Regions from separate parts of the Homo sapiens genome. Here all the other regions are linked to region 2. Evidence: fine-mapped expression QTL. A gene starts in region 2. Each other region holds a variant in brackets. All regions are shown on one strand. Distances are from middle to middle.

Region 1 (6,203 bases), 78 kb before region 2:
AGCTTGAACCCAGGAGGCAGGGGTTGCAGTGAGCCAAGATCACGTCACTGCACTCCAGCCTGGGAGACAAAGCGAGAGTCCGTCTCAAAAAAATAAAAAATAAGAAATAAAAAATCCTGTTGCTGCCATGCAAACTGCCACAAACTAGGTGGCTTAACACAACAGAAATGTATTCCTTTACAGTTCTGAAGTCCGGAAGTCCAAAATCAAGGCGTCGGCAGGACCGCACTCACCAAAAACTGTAGGGGAGACTCCTTCCTTGCCTCTTCCAGCTTCTGGTAGCCCCAAGCATTCCTCCGCTTCTGGCTGCATCAGTCCAGTCTCTGCCTCTGTCTTCACATGATCTTCTCCTTTGTGTGTCCATGTCTTCTTCTCTGTCTCTTATGAGGACATTTGTCACTGAGCACAGTGGCTCACACTTGCAATTCCAGCACTTTGGGGAAGGCAAGGTGGGAGGATCACTTGAGGCCAGGAGTTCAAGACCAGCCCAGACAACATAGCAACACCCTGTCTTGAAGGGAAGGGAAGGGGAGGGGAAGGGAGGAAAGAGGGAGAGGAAGGAAGGAAGGAAGGAAGGAAGGAAGGAAGGAAGGAAGCAAGCGAGGGAGGGAGGGAGGGAGAGATTATTTCTATGTTTCCTGGTCAACATAGTGAGACGCTGTCTCTACAGAAGATCAAAAAATGTGTTGGCTGAGCATGAGCCTGGTGGTGTGTGCCTGCAGTCCCAGCTACTTAGGAGGCTGAGGTTCAAGCATCACTTTAGCCCGGGATGTCAAGGCTGCAGTGAACTATGATCACGCCACTGCATTCCAGCCTGGGTGCCAGAGGGAGATCCTGTCTCTTGTTTTGTTTTGTTTTGTTTTGTTTTGTTTTGTTTTGTTGTTACTAAGTCTCACTCTGCTGCACAGGCTGGAGGAGTGCAGTGGTGCAATCTCTGCTCACTGCAATCTCCGTCTCCCAGGTTCAAGCAATTCTCCTGCCTCAGCCTCCCAAGTAGCTGGAATTACAGGCATGCATCATCATGCCCAGCTAATTTTTAATTTTATTTATTTATTTATTTATTTGAGATGAAGTCTCGCTCTGTCGCCCAGGCTGGAGTGCAGCGGCGCAATCTCAGCTCACTACAAGCTCCACCTCCCGGGTTCACGCCATTCTCCTGCCTCAGCCTCCCGAGTAGCTGGGACTACAGGCACCCGCCACCACATCCAGTTAATTTTTTGTATTTTTAGTAGAGACAGGGTTTCACCATGTTGGTCAGGCTGGTCTCAAACTCCCGACCCCAGGAGATCCTCCTGGCTCAGCCTCCCAGAGTGCTGGGATTACAGGCATGAGCCACCGCACCCAGCCAATATTTATGTTTAATCCTTAGAGCAACTTGCAGGTTTGCTCCAAGGTTTAAACATGAACACTAGTCAAGCTAATTGTGCTCCTCTCCTCCTATGCAGTGGCGGCAAACAGCAGTGCCCTCAGTAGTATACGCAGCCTGCTGCGTGTAGCGGTGGCCTTAAGAGACCTTGGAGATAGCCCTTTCCGATGCATGTTCATGTTTCTGATCTTGACCTCACCCCAGTCTAGACTCCAGACAGGTATGCGAGGCGCCTTTGGAAAGCCCCAGGGTGTGGTGGCCAGGGTTCACATTGGCTAAGGCATCACGTCCATCCGCACCAAGCTGCAGAACATGGAACACGTGATTGAGGCCCTACCCAGGGCCAAGTTCAAGCTCCCTGGCCACCAGAAGACCCACATCTCAAGGCGGTGGGACTTTACCAAGTTTAGTGCAGATGAATGTGAAGACACGGTGGCTGAGAAGTAGCTCATCCTGGATGGCTGTGGCATCAGATACATCCCCAATCATAGGCCCCTGGAATAGTGGCGAGCCCTGCTTACTCACACCCACCAATAAATCCTCCTTCCTGTCCAAACCGAAAAAAAAAAAATATGAACGGGACACAGTGGCTCACGCCTGTAATCCTAGCACTTTGGGAGCTGGAGGTGGGCAGATCGATTGAGCCCAGGAGTTCAAGACAAGCCTGGGCAATATGGTGAAACCCTGTCTCTCCAAAAAAAAAACAAAAATTAGCCGGTATGGTGGTGCACGCCTGTAGTCCCACCCACTGGGGAGGCCGAGGTGGCAGGATCACTTGAGCCTAAGAGGTCAAGGCCGCAGTGAATCAAGATTGCGCCACTGCATTCCAGCCTGGGTGACAGAGAGAGACCTTGTCTCAAAAAAGGAAAAAGGTGGGGGGAAGTAAATTTTGTGCAATACTTATTACAGGCCATGGTGCTGAGTAAGAGCTTCATAAATGGGAATTGCTGTTGCCATCATCTAAGAATTTTTGACAGTTTTGAGGTCAGAGGAAACACAGTAGAGACGATGAGACCTATTCTTTGTCCTGGTAGAAAAATGGAACAATGAGGTCATAGCCTAGATGTGTGTTTTAGCTACATTTTTTTTATTCCACGGTTGTAATTAAATTAAATAATATAGCTGGGCATGGTGGCACACACCTGTAGTCATAGCTACTCGGGAGGGAGGCTGAGGCATGAGGATCACTTGAGCCCAGGAGTTTGAGACCAGCCTGGGCAATGTAGTGAGACCCCATCTCTTGAAAGAGTGAAGTGACTCGCATCTGTAATTCCAGCACTTTTGGAGGCCAAGGCAGGAGAATTGCTTGAGCCCAGGAGTTTGAGATCAGCCTGGGCCACATAGCAAGATCCTCTCTCTACAATAAAAAAAAAAAAATTATATTAGGTGCCTGTGGTCCTAGCTATTCAAAGGCTGAGGCAGGGTGCAGTGGCTCACGCCTGTAATCCCAGAAGTTTGGGAGGCCGAGACAGGCGGATCACAAGGTCAGGAGATCCAGATCATCCTGGCTAACATGGTGAAACCCCGTCTCTACTAAAAATACAAAAACAAAATTAGCGAGGCGTGGTGGCAGGCACCTGTAGTCCCAGCTACTCGGGAGGCTGAGGCGGGAGAATGGGGTGAACCTGGGAGGCGGAGCTTGCGGTGAGCTGAGATCGCACCACTGCACTCCAGCCTGGGTGACAGAGGAGACTCCATCTCAAAAAAAAAAAAAAAAAAGGCCGAGAGGAGTTTGAAGCTGCAATGAGCTATGATTGCACCACTGCACTCCAGCCTAGACAACAGAGAGAGACCCTATCTTTAAAAAATATATAAAACAAAGAGCCTGAGTAACATGGCAAAAGCCTGGGTAACATGGCGAAACCCTATCTCTACAAAAAAAAACGCAAAAATTAACCAGGCATGGTAGCGTGCATCTGTAGTCCCAGCTACTCAGGAGGCTGA[G/A]GTAGGAGGACCACTTGACACCGAGAGGTCAGGGCTACAGTGACCTATGACTGCACCACTATGCTCCAGCCTGGGTGACAGAGTGAGACCCTGTCTTTAAAAATATAATAAATAAAAGAAGAAATATAGTAGCTTTTTTTTTTTTGAGACAGAGTCTTGCTCTGTCACCCAGGTTGGAGTGCAGTGGCAAAATCTCAGTTCACTGCAACCTCTGCCTCCCAGGTTCAAGCGATTCTCCTGCCTCAGCCTCCCGAGTAGCTGGGATTACAGGAGCCTGCCACCACGCCCGGCTAATTTTTGTATTTTTAGTAGTGATGGAGTTTCGCCATGTTGGTCAGGCTGGTCTTGAACTCCCGACCTCAGGTGATCACCCACCTTGGCCTCCCAAAGTGCTGGGATTACAGGCATGAGCTACCACGTCCACCCAATAGTAGCTTAAATAAGATGAAAGTCTATTTTTCTCTCATGTAAAGGCCCAGCGAACACCCGCATCTAGAATAGTAGCCAAGGATGTCAGAGATCGAGGCTCCTTCTACCTGGTTGTTCTGCTGCCCTCACCTCACACTTCCATTGTGTGGTCCAAAATGGCTGCTCCAGCTCCCACCATCACATCCACATTCCAACCACTGGGAAGAAGAAACAAAAGTCAATCGCATGCCCCTACCTTTAAAGCTACAACCCAGAAGTCATACACATCATACACATCACATCCTATTTGGCCAGAATTTAGTCACATGACCACACCTATCACAACAGAGGCTGGGAAATGTGGTTTTATCTGGGCAGCATGTACCCAGCCAAAATTCAGGGGTTCTGCTACAAAAGGAAGAGGAGAGAATGGTTATTGAGGGGCCGCACATGTATCTGTCACAACCAGGGCTCTGCCACCAAATGACTAAATGACTCAAGGTGAAGTGACTTCACCACACTGAGCCTCAGTTTCCTCACCTGTAAGAAGGGAATCCCCCCGACCCCTTGGGGTTGATGGGTTGTTGGGCATTTAATGAGAGTGTGAGTGTCAGGCACTTAGCCCAGGACCTGGCCCATCATCAGTCTGGAGTGTGTTGGAAGTCCTCTTGTGCTTGTGGGTCTAGGCTGTGGGTGATGTGGCTTTTCGTGTATGAGAAACCGTCCCGGGGCTTGAGAGCTGAACCCAGCACTGAACTTTATAAGTAACTTCTCTAAAACAAGGGATCTGGCCTCTGTACACATGGAAATCCCCACTCAGCCTCCTAGACCTTGGGACTAGGCACATGTCCTTCCACAGTCTTCCCCCTTCCGCTGGAGAAAGGCAGACTCCAAAGATGGAGGAAGGGTCCTGCTTGGGGTCTCCAGCCTCCCAGCCTTCACAGAATTAAGCACTCATAGCCTGGCCAACATGGTGAAACCCCGTCTGTTCTAAAAATACAAAAATGTGCTGGATATGGTGGCACACATCTGTAGTCCCAGCTACTAGGGAGACTGAAGTGGGAGGATTGCTTGAACCTGGGAGGGGGAGGTTGCAGTGAGCCAAGATCGTGCCACTGCACTCCAGCCTGGGTGACAGAAAAATAATAATAATAATTCAATCACTCACCCCTCAACTTCCAAAGCTCCTCATGGGTGACAGTCCCAGCATTCCGGGGACAGCTCTAACGCCAGAAGTCATACCTTCAATGCATTTCTCGGGGCTCCACTCGCTTGTCCTCACCACATTGAGTAAACCCAGAAAGACAGAGGACATCTCTCCTAGATGCGTGTGTGAAATCTGCCAGATTCTAAATGCCTGGGACATTCCAAAAAGTGACTTTAAGAGCATTGGCCGGGCACAGTGGCTCACACCTGTAATCCCAACCCTTTGGGAGGCTGAGGTGGGAGGACAGACTGAGCCCTGGAGTTCAAGACCATCCTGGGCAACATGGGTAGACCCCGGCTCTAACCCCGAACATGGTGGCACGTGCCTGCAGTCCCAGATACTCAGAAGGCTGAGGTGGGAGGATCGCTTAAGCCCAGGAGGTTGAGGCTGCAGTGAGCTGTGACCATGCCACTGCACTCCAGCCTGAGTGACAGCGAGAGACTTTGCCTCAAACACACACACACAGAGTCAGGGGACGGTGGCTTACACCTGTAATCCCAGCACTTTGGGAGGCCAAGGTGAGTGGATTGGCCAGGAGTTCAAGACCAGCCTGGGCAACATGGCAAAATCCCATCTCTACAAAAATTAGCCAGGTATGGTGGCACCCACCAACTTGAGAGGCTGAGGTAGAAGGATTGCTTGAACCCAGAGGCAGAGGTTGCAGTGAGCTGTGATTCAGCCACTGCACTCCAGCCTGGGCGACAGAGGGAGACTGTCTCAAAAAACAAAAAGAAAAAAAAAGAGTGTGAGAGGTAAACAGAACACATCTTTTCTTTTTTTCATTGTTTGTTTGTTTTTTGAGACGGAGTCTCGCTCTGTCGCCCAGGCTGGAGTGCAGTGGCGTGATCTCAGCTCACTGCAAGCTCCGCCTCCTGGGTTCATGCCATTCCCCTGCCTCAGCCTCCCAAGTAGCTGGGACTACAGGCGCCCGCCACCACGCCCGGATAATTTTTTATATTTTTAGTAGAGATGGGGTTTCACCGTGTTAGCCAGGATGGTCTCGATCTCCTGACTTCATGATCCGCCCGCCTCGGCCTCCCAAAGTGCTGGGATTATAGGCATGAGCCACCGCGCAGCCGAACACATCTGTTCTTTAAGTGTGTTTTCAGACCTTCACATAAGCCAGACTTTTACTTTATAGAAAGGGAAACTGTGGCCCAGGGATGGAAGAGACTGACTTGGTGAATCGATAGGTCTGGGATTCCATGATTCACCATAACCAACCGACCAAATCTGTCAGCATTCTTGGGACAACCAGCATCGTGTGCCTCCTGATAT
Region 2 (6,125 bases):
AGGATTTTGCAAAGCAAGTTAGTAGCAAGGCTGGCACTAAAACCCAGAGGTCCTGGTCCACAAACCTGGCCTCAGATTGGGGAGAGAAGGTCAGAGAGATCTAAAGCACATTTATTGCCAGGCGCGATGGCTCACACCTGTAATCCCAGCACTTTGGGAGGCTGAGGTGAGAGGATCACTTGAGGGCAGGAGTTCAAGACCAGCCTGGGCAACAAAGCGAGAATCAAATTCTACAAAACATTTAAAAATGCACCGAGCAGCCGGGCACAGTGGCTCACGCCTGTAATCCCAGCACTTTGGGAGGCCGAGGCAGGTGGAGCACGAGGTCAGGAGATCGAGACCATCCTGGCTAAGACCATGAAACCTCGTCTCTACTAAAAATACAAAAAATCAGCTGGGCGTGGTGGCAGGCACCTGTAGTCCCAGCTACTCGAGAGGCTGAGGCAGGAGAATGGCATGAACCTGGGAGGCGGAGCTTGCACTGAGCCAAGATCGCGCCACTGCACTCCAGCCTGGGCGACAGAGCAGAGACTGTCTCAAAAAAAAAAAATGCACCGAGCATAGTGGCACATGCCTGTAGTCCCAGCTACTCAGGAGGCTGAGGCAGAGGATCCCTTGGGCTGGGAAGTTTGAGGTTAGAGGGAGCCAAGATCTGCACTCCAACCTGGGCGACAAAGCACAACCCTGCCTCAAAATTAAATACATAAATAAATTAAGCACATTTATTTATTTTACTGTTTTATTTTATTATTATATATATTTTAAGAGACGGGGCTCTACCATGTTGCCAGGCGTGTCTTGAACCCCTAAATTCAAGTGATCTGCCAGCCTTGGCCTCCCAAAGTGCTGGGATTGCAGACATGAGCCACTGCGCAAGGCCTATTTGTGTATTTATTTATTTTAGAGACAAAATCTCTCTGTCTCCCAGGCTGGAGTGCAGTGGCTCAATCACAGCTCACTGCAGCCTCAACCTCCCTGGGCTCAGGTGATCCTCCCACCTCGGCCTCCCGAGTAGCTGTAGCTGCTATGCATTTATTATGTGTGCGCCTATTTGTCCAGCCATCCTCACACCCAGTTTGTGCCAAGCCTGAGACACAAGCTATCTGGAGCTCACATGGCATGGAGGTTAAAAGCACAGACTGGCCGGGTGCAGTAGCTCACCCCTGTAATCCCAGCACTTTGGGAGGCTAATGCAGGCAGATCACAAGGTCAGGAGTTCGAGACCAGCCTGACCAACATGGTGAAAGCCCGTCACTACTAAAAATACAAAAATTAGCCGGGCGTGGTGGTGCGTGCCTGTAATCCCAGCTACTCAGGAGGCTGAGGCAGGAGAATCACTCAAACCTGGGGGGCGGAGGTTGCAGCGAGCCGAGATTGATTGCGCCACTGCACTCCAGCCTTGGCAACAGAGCCAGACTCCGTCTCAAAAACAAAAAGAGCACAGACCATCCGGGCCCAAAAGAAGCACCCGGCCTGCTATGTGTCTTTGCTGGGTGGCTTGGGGCAAACAACCACCCTGTGCCTCAGTTTACTTTTCAGTGAAATGGGGATCACCATGGTGTCCCCTTCATGGGATCCCTGTGAGGAACTAACTAAGAGAAATAAGGTGCTTAGAAGAGTCAGCTCTGGCTCTGCCATTTTGTTTATTTTTATTTATTTTTAATTTCTATTTTATTTTATGTTTTTCAGACTGAGTCTCACTCTGTTGCCCAGGCTGGAGTGCAGTGGTGCGATCTCGGCTCACTGCAACCTCCAACTCCCGGGTTCAAGCGATTCTCCTGCCTCAGCCTCCCAAGTAGAGACAGGGTTTCACCATGTCGGCCAGGCTGGTCTCGAACTCCTGAACTCAAGTGATCCACCCGCCTCAGCCTCCCAAAGTGCTGGGATTACAGGCGTCAGCCAGGGCGCCCCGCCCTGGCTCTGCCATTTTGTAACTCAGTGAGTCACTTCATCTCTCTGCTTCAGTTTCCCTATCGCCCATGGCGCTGCATGGCTTACATGAGATAATATTCGCAGTGCACTTAGATCAGTGCCTGGCACACGGTAAGTGCTGACTACATGTATTAACAGTATCGTAAGTGCCGGGCGCGGTGGCTCACACCTGCAATCCCAGCATTTTGGGAGGCTGAAGCGGGTGGATCAGGAGGTCAGGAGTTTGAGACCAGCCTGACCAACATGGTGAAACCCCGTCTCTACTAAAAATACAAAAATTAGCCGGGCGTGGTGGCGCGCGCCTGTAATCCCAGCTACTCAGGAGGCTGACTCAGGAGAATCGCTTGAACCCAGGAGGCAGAGGTTGCAGTGAGCCGAGATCGCGCCACTGCCCTCCAGCCTGGGCGACAGAGCGAGACTCCGTCTCAAAGAAAAAAAAAAAAAAAGGATCATAACTAAGACTCGAATGCGGAGGGATAACAGCCTCTGCTACTTGAAACCTAGTCCTTCTGGGGAGGAAAGCCCAGGTGTGTGGCAGGTGGAAGGGAGGGCGAGCCTAGGTGGTCCTCTTGCTAGGGCAAGAAGCCCCCAAGCACCTGCCCCCAGCTGAGCAGCTCCGCGCCTCCTGGCCCTGGACGAACTTGGGCCCAGACTGGCGCTCCGTGGCACCCCCTCCCCCGGCCTCCCGCTTCGCGCCCTCATCCCGCCCCCCGGCGCGGCCTCACCAGCTCCCCCTGGGCAGCCCAAAGAATGCGAAGAGGTAGGTGGGGGTAGGGAGGAGGGCGAGCCGCTGGGAGAGACAAAGGGCCCGAGTCTGAGCGAGAGACACAAAGACGCGAGGAGGCTGGGGAGATAGGGGAAGTGGGACAAGGACGCGGGGAGTGACCAGGTCCGGAGGCCGGACTGGAGCCCAGCCCCACCCAGCCCGGCCGGGCCAGCGCAGCGCGGGGGCCGGTCTCTGCTGCCCCCTGGCGGGTGGCTGCGGTGAGAAGGCGGCGCGGAGCAGGTGTTGGGAGGGGAGGACCAGGGCGCGCAGGGAGGTAGGGAGGGAAGGAAGCAGAGAACAGAGCAGGGACAGAGAGACAGCGAGAGAGACTCGCACGCAGAGACAAGAGACGCCGAGAGGGAGACACAGAGAAAGAGACAGGGACAGAGAGACACAGATAGAGACAGAGAGAGACACACGGAGAGACAGAGACAGAGAAGCACAGAGATAGAGAGGCACAGAGATAGAGACAGAGAAACACAGAGACAGAGAGGCACACAGAGACAGAGAGGCACAGAGACAGGCCGATAGAGACAGAGATACACAGAAATAGAGACAGAGACAGAGAGGCACACAGATAGAGACAGAGAGACACAGAGACAGAGTCAAAGGATGGAAAGAGACATGGGGACCAAGTGACCCAGAAACAGTGACAGACAGGCCGGGCTTGGTGGCTCACGCCTGTAATCCCAGCATCTTGGGAGGCCGAGCCGGGAGGATCGCTTGAGGCCAGCCTCAGCAACATAGTGAGACCCCGCCGCCCCCCCGCCCCGTCTCTTTTATTGAAATAAAGAAACAGTGACTGACAAAGGAAGACCAGAAACAGAGCGACACCGAAGCATGAGGACGGAAAGACCCAGAGAGGCAGAAATACAGGGACAGAGAGGAAGACCCAAAGAGAGTGAGAGAGACACAAAGACACGTAAGAGAGACAGAGAAATCCAGAAAGAAACGAGTGCAGCGACACCTAGAGTTCGGGGCAGAGATTAGAAACGCACGAGGGTACGAGAAACAGGCTCAGGGCGATGGGCTCGACCTGCGGGGAGGTCGCACAACCGGGACGTGCTGGGGGCAGAACCGTAAAGCCCCACGTGCCTCAGGCAACTGTGATGAGAGGACCCGGGCAGGCAGGAAAGGGCAGGATTCGAACTGTGGGTGGGACAGAGGCCAGGACGGACTGAGCTAAGAGACCGAGAGAACTCCGGCTAGGGCGAGGGGCGGGGCTGGTGGAGGCGGGGCTGGTGGGGGCGGAGTCGGCCGGAAGGGCCGAAAGGGGCGTGGCAAGACCTTGGCGAGGCGGCCGGTAGGCAGGGGGCGGGGCGTGGGAACTACTCGGGAGCAGAGGGGGCGTGGCTAGACCTTAGGGGGCGTGGTTTAACGCCGGGAGCGAAGGAGACAGAATTCTTTGGCAGGGGCGACCTTAGAATCCTGGGGAGGAGCGAGAATGGAATCCCGGGGAGGAACAGGGGTGGAATCCGGGGGGCGGGGTCAGAACGCCAGGAGGGGGCGGGGCCGGAGCCAGGGTCGGCTTGACTCGGGGGAGCAGCGGGTGGATCCTGTGACGTCAGCGGGTTCGAACCGCCGGAGCTGAGCGAGAGGCCGGGGGTGCCGAGCCGGGCGGGGAGAGCTGGGCCGGGAGAGCAGAACAGGGAGGCTAGAGCGCAGCGGGAACCGGCCCGGAGCCGGAGCCGGAGCCCCACAGGCACCTACTAAACCGCCCAGCCGATCGGCCCCCACAGAGTGGCCCGCGGGCCTCCGGCCGGGCCCAGTCCCCTCCCGGGCCCTCCATGGCCCGGGCCGCTGCCCTCCTGCCGTCGAGATCGCCGCCGACGCCGCTGCTGTGGCCGCTGCTGCTGCTGCTGCTCCTGGAAACCGGTGAGACGAGCGGACGGCCCCCTGCCCTCGCGCGGACCCCCTCCAACCTTACCTTCCGAGCTGGGGAAGCCGAGCACCTTCCCCGCCCACCCCCGGCTCCCCGAGCCCCCTCTCGCGTGCCCCCTTCCTGGCTGGCCCCACAGACTCCGACCCCCTACACGTCCGATTCTCTCGAGGAGACTCTGACCCCTCCTTTCTGCATCTCTCTCACCACCACCCCCATCCTTCTTAATCCAATTGCCCATCCTACGCCTGCTTGTCTGTCCCCCTCCCCATTTCTCGGATTCCCGCGCCGAAAGGGTTAAATCCCAGGAAGGCCTGGTGCCCCCTCCCCACCCCGCGCCGAGTAGTTCACCCGGATCTGGGTCTCTGTCTCCTCTACCCCTCTCAGGAATGTGGGGAATGTTCCCCCCACCTACCGCAGTAAGGTCTCGAGGAAGAGGCGAGACCACCTCCCTCCCCTATTTTTCCTTCTTCCCGGCTTGGGCGTCTGAGGCCCGGAGAGAACTGAGGACAAGCGGACCTGATTCGGGTCCCTTGGAGGGCTAAGGATAAGAGTTCTGGCGACTTAGGGGGAAGGGCCTGAGCTCGGAGCTCCAACCCCGAACCTCAGGGAGTTGGGGGTTCTGACTCCGTGGACTCCAGAAAAATTAGGGGCCGGGGGCTCCGTCTTCAGGGTCCCTGGTAGAATGGAGGCTAGGCGCTAAGTCTAACTGGGATCTAGGTAAAACTGGGGGCGAGAGAGGATCAAACTTGTAGCTTCTGGATTTAATTGTGGGCAGGGGGCTTCGTTTTCAGGGTTCCCGGCAGAACCGGGGGACAGGAGACTCGATCTCGTGGGCTTCAGACTTAATTGTAGGCAGAGGAACGTCTTCTGAGATCCAAACAGAAGTGCGAGCAGCGGGCCCCGTCTCTTGGGCTCCAGATATGATCAAGGGTCGAAGGCTCTGTCTTGAGGCTGGAGTCTCAGTCGCCTGAGTCCCAGATAGAACGGGAGGCCCCGAGTCCCAGAGGCTGGGAGACTCCTCCCTTTCCCTATGAATGGTCGGGGGCGACGGAGACGTCGCCGGGGAAGTTTTCCTGGTTTCACTCTCGCCGAGCCAGGGAGGGGCGGGGCGGGCGCTCCTGGCTCCGGGTTCCGGACTCCCCGGTTTCGGGACCTTATCTATCCTCTGGTAGCGCCTTTGTCCTCAGAGCCATAGCAGGAGGTGGACGAGTGGAGCCGCCGCCCTTATCCCCCGTCCCTCCCATTGCTATGCCTTGGACCCCCTGGCGTCCTTCCATCCACCCCACTAGGGGAGGAGAGCGGCCCCCCTGGGGAGGGAGGGGCTGGGAGGGAACCCTTGAAAGAGGCGCTGGCCCCGCCCCTTGCAGGTGACCCGGTTGTGTATTCCCAGCGACAAACTCTGGGATGCTAGAGTTTCCCGAGGGTTTGCGCAGAAGAGAGCTCAGGGGGATCTTGGGGGAACCCCGGCCACCTCTCTGGCCTCATTTCCCCCAGGATGGCTCTCACTGGCCTCCCAGCTTTGACCCAGAGCTGGGAACTCCGCTT
Region 3 (4,000 bases), 24 kb after region 2:
ACACCTAGCTAAATTTTTTTGTATTTTTAGTAGAGACGGGGTTGCACCATGTTGGCCAGGCTGGTCTTGAACTCCCGACCTCAGGTGATCCGTCCACCTGGGCCTCTCAAAGTGCTGGGATTATAGGCATGAGCCACTGAGCCTGGCCAGGAAAGAAAAAAAAATTGTTTTAATTAACCAGGCTCAGTGACTTACCTGTAATTTCAGCTACTCGAGAGACTGAGGTGGGAGGATCACCTGAGCCCAGGAGGTTGAGGCTGCAGTGAGCTGTGATTGTGCTACTGCACTCCATCCTGGACAAGAGAGCGAGACCCTGTCTTAAAACAAGTCCAGTCCGGGCAGGAAGTAAAACGGCTTAGAAGTAGGGGACATAGTGGCCTCATTGAGATAGGATGTGCAGGGAAGGCGTCTTAGTCAAGTCCTGGAGTCTGAGAAGGAGCTACCTTTGGGCATAGCAGAGGGGCACGGGCACAGAAACCTGGGAGGTGGGCATGAGATGGGAGCTGGGCGCGTTCCAGGAATGGAAAGGGGGCTGGTGAGGATAGGCAAGGGCTTGGGTGACCCTCAGCGGGGCCACATTACACGGGCTTCACAGGTGGAGGCGAGGAGGCTGGACTATGCCCTCAGCATGGTTAAGAGCCATGGGAGGTGTCAAGCCACAGGAGAGATCTGGACAAACGTTTGAGGTTGCAAAAAATGACCGGCAGCAGTATGAGGAGTGATTGGAGGAGTGGACGGAGGTAGAAGGGAGCTGGGACGAGAGGGGAGAAGAGGCATTGCTGGGAAGACGGATGAGGCAGTGGGGGGCAGAGGGAAGCGGGCGGCATATAGTGGTGTTTTTAGAAGATAGTAGGTGCTGGGCTTGCCCATGGATTGAGGGGGAAGCAGGATCAGAGAGGAGTCCCAGGCCTGGTGCGGTGGCTCACGCCTGTAATCCCAGCACTTTAGGAGGCCAAGGTGGGCAGATCGCTTTGAGGTCAGGAGTTTCAGACCACTCTGGGCAACATGGTGAGGCCCCATCTCTACAAGAAAAAAAAAAATTAGCTGGGCATGGTAGCACACACCTGTAGTCCCAGCTACCCAAGAGGCTGAGGTGGGAGGATCGCTTGGGCCTGGGAAGCAGAGATTGCAAGTGAGCCAAGATTGCACCACTGCACTCCAGCACGAGACCCTGTCTCAAAAAAAAAAAAAAAAAAATAGGACTCCCAGCGGGAAGGTGACTGATACTTGGCAAAAATAGAGAAGGCAGGGAAGATTTTTTTTGAAGGATGCTTTTTTTTCTTTTCCTTTTTCTTTTTTTTTTTTTTTCTTTTTTTGAGACAAAGTCTCACTACATTGTCCAGGCTAGACTCGAACTCCTGGGCTCAGGGGATCCTCCTACCTCCGCCTCCTGCATAGCTGGGATTACAGGCATGAGTCACCACATCCAGCTACGAATGCTCTTTCTTTAAATCTTGAGGCTGGGCGTGGTGGCTCACTCCTGTAATCCCAGCACTTTGGGAGGCCGAGGCGGGCGGATCACGAGGTCAGGAAATCGAGACCATCCTGGCTAACACGGTGAAACCCCATCTCTACTAAAAATACAAGAAATTAGCCAGGCGTGGTGGCGGGTGCCTTAGTCCCAGCTACTCGGGAGATTGAGGCAGGAGAATGGCTTGAACCCGGGAGGCGGAGCTTGCAGTGAGCCGAGATCGCGCCACTATACTCCAGCCTGGGCGACAGAGTGAGACTCTGTCTGGAAAAAAAAAAAAATATGTTGGAAGTCCCCTGGGAGCCCACCTTCCCTAGGCAACTTCCCAGAAGCCACGTCACTCTGGATGCCTTTTCTTCCCCCTTCTCAGCCCAGAGCGTCTGAGAAGGTCACCCTGTGCTATCCTTGAGTAAACACTTCCCTTTCC[A/G]GTAACACATGAAACCACAGCCGTTTTCCATAATACAAAGGACAGCTCTTCTCCTCCCCACCCTCACAAACGCCTCTCTTCTTGTGCAATCATTTGTTCTCATCCAGAGATAACTTCAGGGCTGGGCACGGTGGCTCACACCTGTAATCCCAGCACTTTGGGAGGCTGAGAGGCAACAAGAGCAAAACTCTGTCTCAAAATAAATAAATAAATAATGAGACTCAGAAAATATGATTAAGGGCCAGGCGCAGTGGCTCACGCCTGTAATCCCAGCACTTTGGGAGGCCGAGGCAGGCGGATCACGAGGTCAGGAGATTGAGACCATCCTGGCTAACACGGTGAAACCCTGTCTCTACTAAAAATACAAAAAAATTAGCCGGGCGTGGTGGCGGGTGCCTGTAGTCCCAGCTACTTGGGAGGCTGAGGCAGGAGAATGGCATGAACCCAGGAGGCGGAGCTTGCAGTGAGCCGAGATCGCATCACTGCACTCCAGCCTGGGCGACAGAGCGAGACTCCATCTCAAAAAAAAAAAAAAAAAGAAAAGAAAATATGATTAAGTGTAGGGTTTAATCAAGCCCAAAGCTTGAGGATGACCACCTGGGAGCATAGATTGAAGTTGCCCTGAATATACACTTCAAGCAGGGGCCAAGGCAAGCAGCTCTTGCAAGTGAGCTTTTGTTTGTTTGTTTGTTTCTTGGAGAGAGGGTCTCCAAAACTACAAATAAAAATTAGCTAGGAATGGTGGCGCACACCTGTAATCCCAGCTACTCAGGAGGCTAAGGCAGGCGAATTGCTGAAACCAGCAAGGGCAGGTTGCAGTAAGCTGAGATTGCACCACTGCACTGCATCCTGGGTGACAGCAAGACTCTGTCTCAAATTAATAAAAAAAAAAGAGAGAGAGAGAGATAACCTCAAGAGCTTCCGTATACACACTGGTGCAGAAGTAAGGAACAAAACAGCCAAAGCCTCTGTCTTCATGATGCGTGAGCCACCAAGGAATAGTTGGCCAGAGTCGGCGGTCAGGAAAGTGCCCTTGACGAAGTGGGGCTTGGAGTGGGGTCTGGAGAAGGAGGCCAAAGCAATCCAGGCACAAAATCACCAACCAAAACCCCAAAGTGGGTGGAGGCAGAGACTGAGGAGGGCGTGGATGGGGAGCATGTGGAGTGGCCAGGGGAGGTGGCCATGGGGAAGTGGTGGGCTCGGGCCCTGAGTCACTATTCTAACAGCTTGGAGGGCGGCCAGGAGGATGTGGGGAGGCTTGTTGGATGCTCCACGATGGTCAGGGGAGAAGGCGGTGGGAAGGGAGAGCTGGGAAGAAGAGGAGAGTCAGACCGTGTTGAGAAGTTCAGAGGTGGATACCCAGGTCCAGAAAGCAACAGAAGATGTGAGTCTGGGTGGGGGACACACATCATAAGCATGAGCTGCTATTCTTCCTGGAGTTTTGTTTTTGTGATTTTTTTCCATGTTTTCCAAGAGAATGAGGTGGAAAGGGTATAAAAAAAAGAAACGGCTTTGAGATTTTCTGCCTTTATCACACTTCCAGTCATTCAATCATCTAATGGTGATTACAGGAAAAGGAACAGGGGGCCTTTCCAGCTGGACCTTTGAACCACAGTACTCAGTTACTCGCTCGGCCTTGATTTGCTTTTTTTTTTTCCTTTTTTTTTTTTTTCTTTTGGAGACAGAGTCTCACTGTCACCCAGGCTGGAGTGCAGTGGCACGATCTCGGCTCACTACAACCTCTGCCTCCCAGGTTCAAGCAATTCTCTTACCTCAGCCTCCCGAGTACCTGGGATTACAGGCACCTGCCACCACGCCCAGCTAATTTTTGCATTTTTAGTAGAGATGGGGTTTCACCACGTTGGCCACGCTAGTCTAGAACTCCTGACCTCAGGTGATCTGCCCACCTGGGCCTCCCAAAGTGCTGGGATTACAGGCATGAGCCACTGCGCCCATCCTAATTTTTGTATTTTCAGTAGAGATGAGTTTTCACCATGTTGGCCAGACTGGTCTCAAATTCCTGGCCTCAAGTGATCCACCCTCCTCAGCCTCCTAAAGTGCTGGTATTGCAGGTGTGAACCACCACGCCCGACCAGCTTTTT
Region 4 (4,000 bases), 33 kb after region 2:
GGTCACTCTCAGAGGGTCTCTGAGCCACGAACCCACATCCAGGCACACACAGAGTCGTCACAGAGACACAGTATGGAGTCCACAGCAGCACGAACATAGGATACGAACGCCGCACCACAGGACAGATCTATCTTTAGGGAGACTCAGAGAACTTTTTATTTTTAATAGAGACAGGGTCTCGCTATGTTGGCCAGGCTGGTCTTGAACTCCTGGCCTCAAAGCATTCCTCCAGCTTTGGCCTCCCAAAGTGCTGGGATTACAGGTATGAGCCAGCACACTAAGCCTGATTCAGAGCTTTGAACCCTAGACATATGAACAGACTCAGCTTCGAGTTCCAAAACACCAATGCCACCTCCAGAAACAGAGACAAGCCTCCCAAGATAGGCTCAACCTGGTCCAGTTAGTGACCAGCACAGGAGAAAAATCTGTTTCACTCCTCAACCCAGTGTATAGTTAGAGACATATATACCACCCTACCCCCTACCAAAAAAGATTTTATCCTCCTTTTTTTAATGCTATTTGTGAGTCACTAAGCTGATTTGACAGCCCGCTGGGTCATGACCCCCTGTTTGAAAACAACAGAAACAGATGTCCTTCCTGGGTCTCAGCCCCTCCTGTGTGTCGAGGTGTAGAGGTGGGGTCAGGTGTGGGTGAACCCCCCACCCCCGTCTGTCCCAGTTATGCCTTGCATGCAGGGATGGGGGAAGTGGATGTGGGTAGGTTCTGGTTACATTGACTTCTGTCCCTGGCTTGGGGCCCAGGAGCCCCATCCCTCCCTGCTCACACTGCCCTCCTCAGCACTTCATGGCTTCCTCTCTCTCTCCGCCTCCCCACTACCTCCCATCCCCCATCCCCACCTGCTCAGCCCCTGCAGGGAGCACTAAGGAAGTCCCACTGTCCCGGTCTGTGAGAACCCCATTTTACACACTGGGGATAAGTGGCCTAGAGATGAGGCAGCCACGGCACTTGGAATAAATGCTCCCAGCCACTCAAGAGGGCAGAATTATCAGGAATCTGTGGCCCTCTGCAGAGAGCTTTGGGATCAGACAGCCTCCCACTGAAACCCAGCTGTCCTCCCCCGAGGGGGTGTGGCCCCCAAGCTCATAGCTTTGTGAGGACCCCACAGCACATTCAGGGAGGGCTGCGAAGTCAGATGGCACCAGGGTCCTGGCCAGTGACCGGGCGGCCAGATCTATTGCATCCAAATAGCCAGCTTCCACTCGGCTACGGCGATCGCCAGACATGGGAGTTTGGTGTTGCTAGATCTGATTTGTCCCCCTAAGAGAAACCTGGATTTTTAAGTGAAATCGCCTGATTTTTGAAAGGTTGGCTAGCAATTTAAATTTTGCAAAACACTAACACCTGGGGACCACCGGTTGGCATCCCCCTCCTTGTACAAAGTGGTGCTCAGGCTGTAGCGAAGGGCGGAGGGGCTTCTGCTTCCCCACCCCCCTCCTCCTCCTCCTCCATTCTTCTGCCCAGAGTCACCCCCTCATTCTGGTCACTCCCGCTCCCTCCATCCCCGCCTATCCTGCATCTCCCCCACCCCCTCACTCCCCAGAGCGATCCTCGTGATCTTGTGTCTCCCTTTCTCTCTCTCTCACCCCTCCTTCTCTCTCTCCTCAGAAACCCCCAGGGCCTCGCCCCGAGATGTGGGCCCGCTGGTGTGGGGGGCCGTGGGGGGGACACTGCTGGTGCTGCTGCTTCTGGCTGGGGGGTCCTTGGCCTTCATCCTGCTGAGGGTGAGGAGGAGGAGGAAGAGCCCTGGAGGAGCAGGAGGAGGAGCCAGTGGCGACGGGGGATTCTACGATCCGAAAGCTCAGGTGTTGGGAAATGGGGACCCCGTCTTCTGGACACCAGTAGTCCCTGGTCCCATGGAACCAGATGGCAAGGATGAGGAGGAGGAGGAGGAGGAAGAGAAGGCAGAGAAAGGCCTCATGTTGCCTCCACCCCCAGCACTCGAGGATGACATGGAGTCCCAGCTGGACGGCTCCCTCATCTCACGGCGGGCAGTTTATGTGTGACCTGGACACAGACAGAGACAGAGCCAGGCCCGGCCCTCC[C/T]GCCCCCGACCTGACCACGCCGGCCTAGGGTTCCAGACTGGTTGGACTTGTTCGTCTGGACGACACTGGAGTGGAACACTGCCTCCCACTTTCTTGGGACTTGGAGGGAGGTGGAACAGCACACTGGACTTCTCCCGTCTCTAGGGCTGCATGGGGAGCCCGGGGAGCTGAGTAGTGGGGATCCAGAGAGGACCCCCGCCCCCAGAGACTTGGTTTTGGCTCCAGCCTTCCCCTGGCCCCGTGACACTCAGGAGTTAATAAATGCCTTGGAGGAAAACATCAGGGGTGTCTTGTAATACATCAGACCCCCTCCTTGCATGTTGGGGAAAGAGAGGGTGGGACAGGGACTCCTAGGTCCCAGGGCTGGGAAGAGCTGATCCACGCCCCCGGGGAACGAGAGCCTGGCAGGGGTTAGACTGGGGAAGGCTGTGGGGCTCGGACCACTTGGATCCTTGAAAGACGCATTGGATGGCCGAGAACCGCAAGGCTCGTGCAACTAGGATTCAGGTCACTGGATTGGGGACTCAGAGGCCTGGACATTTGGACTCCTGGGTCCCAGGACAGAGGCTGCCTTTCTGGATGGTGTGGCCAGACCCATCAGAGGCAGGAGTTCTCTGGACTCCTGGGCCCTCGGGTGGAGGTGGGGGTGGGGACAGCAGGGGCTCAGCCAGGTTCCCTGCGTCCTGAGAGAATGAGGCCAGAGGGCTGTGATCCAGTGGAGCCTCAGACCTCAACTCCCCCAGGTTGCTGGGGGTCTCGGGAGGGGAGGGCTGCTCCCCACTCCCATTCTTAGGGGCCCTGAGGGCATGGGGCAGGCGGGGGGTGCTGGGGAAGTCCCACCTCTGGCCACCCCGACTGTGGCTCCCCTCCTTCTCCATCCTTGCCCCCAGGGATCACCCCAGGGGACTTTTCAGTGGCTCCCTGGGAGTGGCGGCAGCTCCCTCCAGCTCCTCTCAACTGGAAAAGCAAAGACGGGGGGAGGGGCGGCCCTTGGTCCTTGAACTCCCAGGCTCAGTAAGGGACAGGTTTTTACCCGCGTCACCTCTGCTCTCCCAAGCCTCCATGCCTCCTCTGTAACACGGGGCAGGTGTTTCCATCGGCCTCACAAGGCTGTCGTGGGACCCAGTAAGGACATGCCCGTGATGCCCTCATGCAGCCTCATTGACCTCCACAGACCCCACCAAGCCCTGTGCCAGGCAGTGCTGGGGCTGCAGCTGTGGCCTGCACAGACCCAGTGCCGTCCTCCGGTGTGCACGGCCATAATGACCACAAGAATAGCAGCAGTATGTTTAGGATGAAGGTGTGTGTGTGGACCGAGGGGCAGTCTCTCTCTCTCACTCCCCCACCCTCTGAAGCCCTCCAGAGGATGCCAGGCTGTGGAACGGGAGCAGTGGAGATCCAACAGTCCAGCGTCCTCTGGAAGCTTCCTCCTCATCTGGAGAGTGAGGCCGATGCATGCGTGACCCCCACGGGCCCTTCCATACTTGTTACTTCCTCTGGTTGTTTGTTGTCTGTACTCACCCACCCACCCCACCCGGACAACCGGAGGGCAGGGGCGGGGAATTGGGTCCGCCTGGCACACAGTGGATCCTTCAGTGCCATGCTGAGTCCTCCTTACACACCCAGCAAACACCTACTGTGTGCCGAACCTCAGGCACACAGTCTAGTATGGAAATTGGCAAGTAAACGGGTAACCACTCCAAAAACTCTTCCATTAGGAAAGACTTGAGAAATGGAAACGGGAGGTGCTAGCAAGGAAGGAGAGGCCCAGGAGCAAACAGGCTTCTCGCTTCTCGACCCCTTTTCCTGTCTTGCCTTTTTTTTTTTTTTTTTTTTTTTTTTTTTTGAGACGGTGTCTAGCTCTGTTACCCAGGCTGGAGTGCAGTGGTACGATCTCGGCTCACTGCACCCTCCACCTCCCAAGTTCAAGCAATTCT

The links. PIP is the estimated chance that this variant, and not a neighbour inherited with it, causes the effect.
Region 1: its variant is fine-mapped to the expression of NECTIN2 in gastroesophageal junction (GTEx, PIP 0.98).
Region 3: its variant is fine-mapped to the expression of NECTIN2 in whole blood (TOPMed, PIP above 0.99). The same link has a PIP of 0.9 or more in blood mononuclear cells and lung.
Region 4: its variant is fine-mapped to the expression of NECTIN2 in lung (TOPMed, PIP above 0.99). The same link has a PIP of 0.9 or more in sun-exposed skin and unexposed skin.

Annotation. Positions count from the first base shown.
Region 1 is chr19:44,763,575-44,769,777 of GRCh38, forward strand. It overlaps the pseudogene LOC124900431. Among named protein-coding and RNA genes, the nearest start is that of MIR8085, 8.0 kb to the left of the region's middle. The variant G/A (reference allele first, on the strand shown) is at 3,311.
Region 2 is chr19:44,842,041-44,848,165 of GRCh38, forward strand. NECTIN2 (nectin cell adhesion molecule 2) reads left to right here and starts at 4,257. Exons shown (of 9, transcript NM_001042724.2): 1 at 4,257-4,573. The coding sequence starts at 4,486. RefSeq lists silencers at 2,621-3,020, 3,888-3,937, 4,018-4,097, 4,228-4,327 and an enhancer at 5,967-6,125.
Region 3 is chr19:44,867,174-44,871,173 of GRCh38, forward strand. The region is part of intron 2 of NECTIN2 (nectin cell adhesion molecule 2); the gene reads left to right. Among named protein-coding and RNA genes, the nearest start is that of TOMM40, 22 kb to the right of the region's middle. The variant A/G (reference allele first, on the strand shown) is at 1,899.
Region 4 is chr19:44,876,597-44,880,596 of GRCh38, forward strand. The region is part of intron 5 of NECTIN2 (nectin cell adhesion molecule 2); the gene reads left to right. Among named protein-coding and RNA genes, the nearest start is that of TOMM40, 13 kb to the right of the region's middle. RefSeq lists enhancers at 2,290-3,139, 3,140-3,989, 3,990-4,000. The variant C/T (reference allele first, on the strand shown) is at 2,064.